Linked DNA regions of Homo sapiens. The protein of the gene in region 2 purifies or fractionates together with the protein of the main gene of each other region. This does not show direct contact. Each region holds a gene or a part of one and is shown on either strand. Other genes may lie near its edges.

What was found. Proteins that work in one complex are often made in the same cells at the same time.
Region 1: the proteins of NGEF (region 2) and CSTF2 purify together in Homo sapiens (affinity purification with mass spectrometry, with the first as the bait; one large-scale study listed by BioGRID). This does not show direct contact.

Annotation. Positions count from the first base shown.
Region 1 is NC_000023.11:100,826,889-100,830,476, reverse strand, and holds part of CSTF2 (cleavage stimulation factor subunit 2), read right to left. Parts: intron 2,438-3,588; coding exon 2,375-2,437; intron 1-2,374. UniProt on the Homo sapiens protein: One of the multiple factors required for polyadenylation and 3'-end cleavage of mammalian pre-mRNAs. This subunit is directly involved in the binding to pre-mRNAs.
Region 2 is NC_000002.12:233,006,662-233,010,447, reverse strand, and holds part of NGEF (ephexin-1), read left to right. Parts: intron 1-3,786. UniProt on the Homo sapiens protein: Acts as a guanine nucleotide exchange factor (GEF) which differentially activates the GTPases RHOA, RAC1 and CDC42. Plays a role in axon guidance regulating ephrin-induced growth cone collapse and dendritic spine morphogenesis.

The DNA of each region.
Region 1 (3,588 bases), on a different chromosome or scaffold from region 2:
TATATAAAAAGGATAGTTTTGAATCTTCTAGTTATGCAAAGAACATAAATGTAGTTTCAGAAGCAAAACATAAAAGAAACTGCACTGAATCTGGAAGGCAAGATTCATTCTGAAACGGCCATAACTGAAGTACGGCAATTCTATTTTTGTCACATTTTAAAGCACAAAAATTTCTGCTGTCAAAAATGTATCAGATGGGGAAATGCAGTGAATGAACTTTACATGATGAAAGAGAATATCACTCCACAAGAAATACTCTGCCACAGCAAGTCTTTGATAATAAACATCATGACAACAGCAAACAAAGACTAATGAGATGACATGGGAACCGACACTAAACAAACATGGCAGGGAAGCAAGAAGTATCTTCTCAAACATCTCCATCTCCTTTCAGCATTAAAAGCAGCATGGATTTCAGGAAAAGTAAGACAAACTAGGCACACACGAAAAGACTCTTGCTTCCTCTGCTGGGTACTGAAGGAAACTATAAAAGAAAGCTCATCTCACTTAGTCTCTGCATGAAGACATCCTGGAAATACCCTCAAAACATGAGTCACTTCCCTTTGCCAATTTCTGACAAAAAGGTGAAGATAACTATAATAGGAAGATGTCTTGTGCAAGTATGCGTTAAACAGCTAAAACCTGATGGATTGAGGGCTGGCCCCATGACAGGCAGAAGTATGACTGAAACCCTAATACCTTCTCATTACTGCAGAAATACTCTGGGGAACATATATGATCTATTGACAGTGGTGCGGTGGGGATAGAGGGATGTACAATAGCACAAAAGCATTGGATGCTTAGAGAAAATATGAGATATTTGGCCAGGGAGTTTGTCCTGCTGTCAGACTTCTAACAAGAAAAAGTTAATTCTGTCACTTCAGCAACCAACCCCAGTGTAAAAACCACAGGCTTGTATATTAATGTTTATGTATGTATGTGTGTATATATATGTGTGTGTGTGTGTATATATATATATTCTTTGAGACAGGGTCTTGCTCTGTTGCCCAGGCTGGAGTGCAGTGGTGCCCGATTATGGCTCACTGCAGTCTCAACCTGTTGGGCTCAAGTGATCCTTCCACTTCGGCCTCCCAAGTAGCTGGGACCACAAGTGCACACCACCATTGCCCAACTAGTTTTTGTATTTTTTATAGAGACGGGGTTTTGCCATGTTGTCTAGGCTAGTTTCAAACCTCTGAGCTCAAGCAATCCACCCACCTCAGCCTCCCAAAGTGCTGGGATTACAGGCATGAGCCACTGCGCCTGGCCAATATTTTGCTTTTTAAATGGGTTCCACTTATAAACCATATGCTACAAAAGAAAAAACCTTAAGCTTCTCTATGCTTGTCCAAAGCAGTCTTTCCCATCATTTTATTCCCAAGGAATAAGAGTAGAAGACACTGAAGAATATGCTTGGAAGTTAACAGAGGCAGTGTGGAGTGACAGAAAGAGGACAGATTCTGGAGTCAAAGACTTCTGAATCTTAGCTCTGCCACTTACTAGTTGGAAGAGAAAATAAGAGCACCAAATCCAGTCCACATTACTCATACATTAATATTTACTTACCTTGTCCCCTTGAGAAAGTAACTTATTCTGAGCTTCCAACTCTTTGCCTGTAAAACTGAGGTGCTGCCACCTAACTCACAAGATTATTTATGAAAATTAAAGTGCCTGGCATATAGTATGCACTCAGTTCCTTCTCTTTTCTTACGATCTCTCCTCCTAACATTGTTTCCAACTGAACCACTGCACTTTCTTGTCCTTCAAACTCCAGTAACATGAAGAAACAACATGGAGATTTTGGAGCAGCAGCTACTGTTGTATATAGCAGTACAGCCACGGTACAACATATGTTCATTAAGTAGGCGTTACAGACCTATGATTCCCTCCCAGTTTTCTCTGGGGTTTAAATCTAGTCTTCTACATACCCAGCCACATATTTACATGCTCATTATTAAAATTCCTTACTCAGTCAACAGATATCCATACAGGGAGAGAGAACATGTCAGTGGAATTATTAGACTAGGAATCAGGAAACAAACGATCCACTTGCTTCATTATCAATTCTTGTAGAGCTGGACTCTGAATCACCAGGTGGAAAGTCTAGACCAGCACTGTCCAATAGATCTTTTTACGATGATAGAAATGTTCTATATCTGTAATGTCCTGTATGGTATCCACTAGTCACCTGTGGCCACTGAGCACTTGGAATGTGGCTATTGTGACTGAGGAACTGAGTTTTAAATTTTACTTAATTTTAATTAACTTAATATTGAAATAGCCATGGGTGGTTAGTGGCTGCCATATTAGATACTGTGGATGTGGAACACTTCCATGACCAATTAACATTAGTCAGACATTAATATTTATTTACCTTGCCCCCGTTCCATGGACACTGGTCCACTTCCTGGCATTCCAACCTGAGCCTGCATTCCTCCTAGAAGATAAAGGGCAGACAAGAAAAAACACCAATTAGAACAGCGGAAAAGAAAAATTAGAACAGTGGCTGAGTTTACAAATTTCCTCATTCTGCTCCACAAGCAGAAACCTACAAAGGAAGATATTCAACAATGCAATGAGAGAGAAGATGGGGTTTGTTAGTATATTTACAATTTGTACTTTATGTTTCAGTGACAGAATAGTGAGTTCAATAAGAATAATTCATTTCATTGGTTACCAAACTCTTGGCAGGAAGCTCTTCTATAATACAGGAAAACAATGTCACTTACCCATGGACCTCCTGTCATGAAAGATAATTTAAATACAAGTATAACTCTATTAGGATAAAGTAGATACATAACAATCCTAAAGTAGATACAAAAAATTCCTGAGTTTGCAGAAATTTCTTCAAAAAATCTCTTCTTCCATTCCTCATCAACTTAGCTCTGCAGACTGGATTCTCTACAGAACAGAACAATTTAGAATTAAATCATTCTCCATGAGTAGTGTTGTACTCAACCTACCCTAGATTAGATAAATTAACAAAAACCAAGTTTGTTACATAAAAAAACTTTAAATATTGGTAATACATCATGTGTTCATACAGATGTTTCATATGGGGAATCATTATTTCACTCAATCTTCTTAGTTACAATTGTTGAACAAGGAACAGTTACAAGTATATGAGCAATACTCTTATTAATTGCCGATCTATACATTTTCAATAAATGTACATAGCTTTTAAATTTCTCTTTTTCCCTTTTGTTGTTTGTTCTGATTATGTTTGTTAAAATACAATTTTATGTCAGTTTAATATGCTATAACAAATGTGACCTTGTATTTTTTTGTCTGTTTTCTTCATGAGCTTTTGAACCTAATCTGACAGTTCATTCATATTTAGCAGAGTAACAACTACATTAGTTTTTATTCCTTCCATCTTACTCTACATTTATTATTACTTATTTTACACTGTCTCTTACTTTTTTCCTCTTCTCTATTTTTGCTGGCTTGATTTTGTTTCCACTCATTCCATTTTCCCCCTTGTTAACTTGGAAGTTTTACTATGCTCTTTCACTTTACTGTCCCTTTCCCTGTTCTTATAATTAGACATACAGGATTTAACGTAAGAAATCTACTATTTCCTCCACC
Region 2 (3,786 bases):
GGAGGAGGAGAAGAACTGGGGGTGTGGTTTGATGTATTATAAAGCAAGCATTACTACCTTGAAAATAAGGTAGTAATTCTTTTCACACTCACTCAGAATGAATGCTCCAGGTTCTCTAAATAGCATACGTTCACAGATAGCACATTCCAGGTGAAGGGACAGCAGGGTTTTAGCAAAAGGGAGGGAGCCCTGCAGTAAGGGTTGGGCCAGTGGAGGCAGAGACAGGGGAGGCATGAGGTCTGTTTAAAAGATGCCAGCTGGGCGTGCTGGCTCACACCTGTAATCCCAGCACTTTGGGAGGCTGAGGCGCATGGATTACCAGAGGTCAGAAGTTCAAGACCAGTCTGGTCAACATAGTGAAACCCCATCTCTACTAAAAATACAAAAATTGGCATGGTGGTGGACCCCTGTAATCGCAGCTACTCAGGAGGCTGAGGCAGGAGAATGGCTTGAACCCAGGAGGCAGAGGTTGCAGTGAGCCAAGTTCACGCCATTGCACTACAGGCAAGGTGACAAGAGGAAGACTCCAATTCAAAAAAAGAGAGACAGGACAGGTGGAGTGGAGGGAAGGTGGAGGGGATGGCCCAACCCAAGATGCCAGGACCCCAGAGGTCCACAGAGATGAGAGTGGGGGTCTGGATGGCCAGCGTGTCCCATGGGAAATTCATCCCTCACTTCTGCACCCTGCACCTGGTGGCTGTGCCTCAGTTGCCTTCACTTTGGGCTGGAGCTTCATGCACCAGCACCATGTCTCCCAAAGCTAGAAGCTCTGACCTCCAATCATCCAGGAGTTTTACTTTTTTTTTTTTTCTGTAGAGATGGGTTCTCACCATCTTGCCCAGGCTCATCCCAAACTCTTACACTCCAGCAATCCTCCCACCTTGGCCTCCCAAAGTGCTGGGATTAGAAGAGTGAGCCACTGCACCTGGCCCCAAGTTGCTGATGAGTTTAAAAATGGGTATATGAACCGGGTGCAGTGGGGTGTCCTGTAGTCCCAGCTACTCTGGAGGCTGAGGTGGGAGGATCGCAAATTCAGATCCAGCCTGGGCAAAATAGCAAGACCCCCATCTCTAAAAATAAATAGATCAATAAAAAGGAGTTTTGGGCAGCAACATGGATAGAAGTGGAGGCCATTATGTCAAATGAGATAAACCAAGCATAGAAAGACATATATCTCGTGTTCTCACTCATATGTGGGAGCTAAAACTGTGAAGTGGGTCTCATGATGACAGACAGTAGACTGCTGGTTACTGGAGGCCAGGAAGTGGAGCAGGGACGCAGGGATGAAGGAGTGAAAAAGAATAAAGATACTTATTGTCACTGAACTGCACACTTAAAAATTATGAAGATGGGCCGGGTGTGGTGGCTCACACCTGTAATCTCAGCATTTTTGGAGGCCAAGGTGGGCAGATCACTTGAGGCCAGGAGTTCAAGACCAGCCTGGCCAACATGGCAAAACCCTGTCTCTACTAAATATACAAAAATTAACTGGGCGTAGTGGCACCTGTAATCCCAGCTACTCGGGAGGCTGAGGCAGGAGAATCACTTGAACCAGGGAGGTGGAGGTTGCAGTGAGCCAAGATCAAACCACTGCACTAAGCCTGGGCCACAGAGCAAGACTCCGTCTCAAAAAAGAAAAAAAAAAAAAGATGCAGATGGTAAAGTTTTTTAAAAAAAGGAAAAAGAAATATCTATTGAAAAACTGAAAAGAAACAGAGGTGCCAATTCACTATTAGTTAATGAGTATGTTTCCTACCAGAGACAAATCCTTCAAAATATAGGCTCTGCAGAAGGGCAAGCAACTTGGACAGTGCCCTTCAAGGGATGAGAGAAGCTTGGGAACCACAGAGGCAGTGACAGGGGATATGGAAGGCAAGCTGGGCCTAAGGCCCTTGACCCCCAGGTCCCGCCCCAAAGTGGCCAGGGTCAGTCCCAAGGTGCTGACTTTTGGAGTGTTGCTCTATCTTATGTACAAGTTAGTGCAACCTGCTTGTATCAGTCTTTCAGGCTACATGACAGTGAACTCCATGAAGGCCAAATCCCTGGAGAGTACCTCATGCAGCCCATCAACAAGCAATTGCTGGATGCAATTGCTCTCTGGGCCCAAAGTGAAAAGATGGCAAAACTGCCTGCTCCTCTCCCAAGCTCTCCACCATCATTTCAGACCCCCACAACTGCCTCCATACCCTTTACCGCAATCCACATAAGCAGATCAAGAAAACTCAATTTCCTACTCTCAGCTGATACACTCAGTGTTGCTGAGCGAAAATAGATTCCTATTAAATCCCACCAATGGGGTGAAAAATTTCCAAGTATTTGAAGTTTTTAGAACCCTCACATATGGGTTTTATTTTTCAGGATGCTCCCAAGTCATAAATCCACTCATGAGAGTGAGGACAAAGATCAAGACAGTTTTGCTCTCATCTGAGTGAGAAAAACATTCCTTGGTGGATTCTTGAGCGTTGGAGGAAAGCCTTCCTTTCTGCCAAGTTCCTTTTTAGGAAATTAGCTTTGGACTTTAAAATGATTTTAAAGTTGTTTCTGGATTGAAAAGGGCATCTGGCGCCTGGACAACTTTTCCTGGTGCCTGAGATATCAGAGCAGTCACTTGCAACTTTCTACAGATTTCTGGCCTCTTTGGAAGCATTCCTAAATCAAGAGCAAAGTCATTCGCCATTGGCCACCTTGGGTTCCAAGTCAAGGGTAAGAAATGGAGCTCAGGGTCATAATGAAGTCGTTTGGATGCTCAATCTAAAATCAACAGGCTCATCTAGGCTGTGTTTGGGAAAACATTATTATAGCTAATTTGTGTATTCATTGGAGAAATATCACAGAAAATGCCAAAATTAAGTAGCATGCATAGACAGCCAGCATCTTCTCATGTGAGCAGTGCTAGGGTCCTGCCAGGTTAAAAGCCCCCGGTGTGCATCCTCCTCCCTTTCTCAGCCTTCACTAGGCACCAGTTTGCGCTGCTCTTCTCTGTGAGTTGTCCCCACTGGAGACCCACGATCAGCCTGAGCAGGGCTCAGACACAGAGCTACCTGGCGGCTACCTGGCGGGCCAAAGGGTTCTTCCTAGAAACCTAGGCTGGGCCATTATCTACCTTTGTTCCCCCTCCAAATACTCTGTGATCGTTAAAGCTGTTTTCTTGAGAAACGCTATTTGCTTTAAAAGTTAGAATTGTATTTATTTATTTATTTATTTGAGACAGGGTCTTGCTCTGTTGCTCAGGCTGGAGTGCAGTGGTGGGATCATGGCTCATTGCACCCTTGACCTCTCAGGCTCAAGCGATCCTCCCATCTCAGCCTCCCAAGTAGCTGAGACCACAGATGTGTGCCATCACATCTGGCTAATTTTTGTATTTTTTGTAGAAATGGGGTTTCTCCATGTTGACCAGGCTGGTCTCGAACTCCTGGACTCAAGTGATCAGCCCGCCTCAGGCCCCAAAGGGCTGGGATTGTATACAAGCATGACCTACCATGCCTGGCCCAACATGTTTTAAATTAAAGGTGGTGAGAAACAGTTTAGAAATCATGTTTTTAAGCACTTTGCTGGAGCTGGGCTGCCTGGGTTTGAATCCCGCCTCCACCACCTGCTAGCTGTGTGACCTCGGATGAGTCGGTTAACCTCTCTGACCCACCATGCTCCATGTCCTCCTCTCTAAAAGTGAAAGAAATAGGACAAGTACAGTAAAGATCATACAGGATCGCCATGAGTGTTCAATGAGATGGTGCACAGAAAGCTCTTGGCCCTTGCAAAATTTTAGCTATTATTTTCCTGATATGC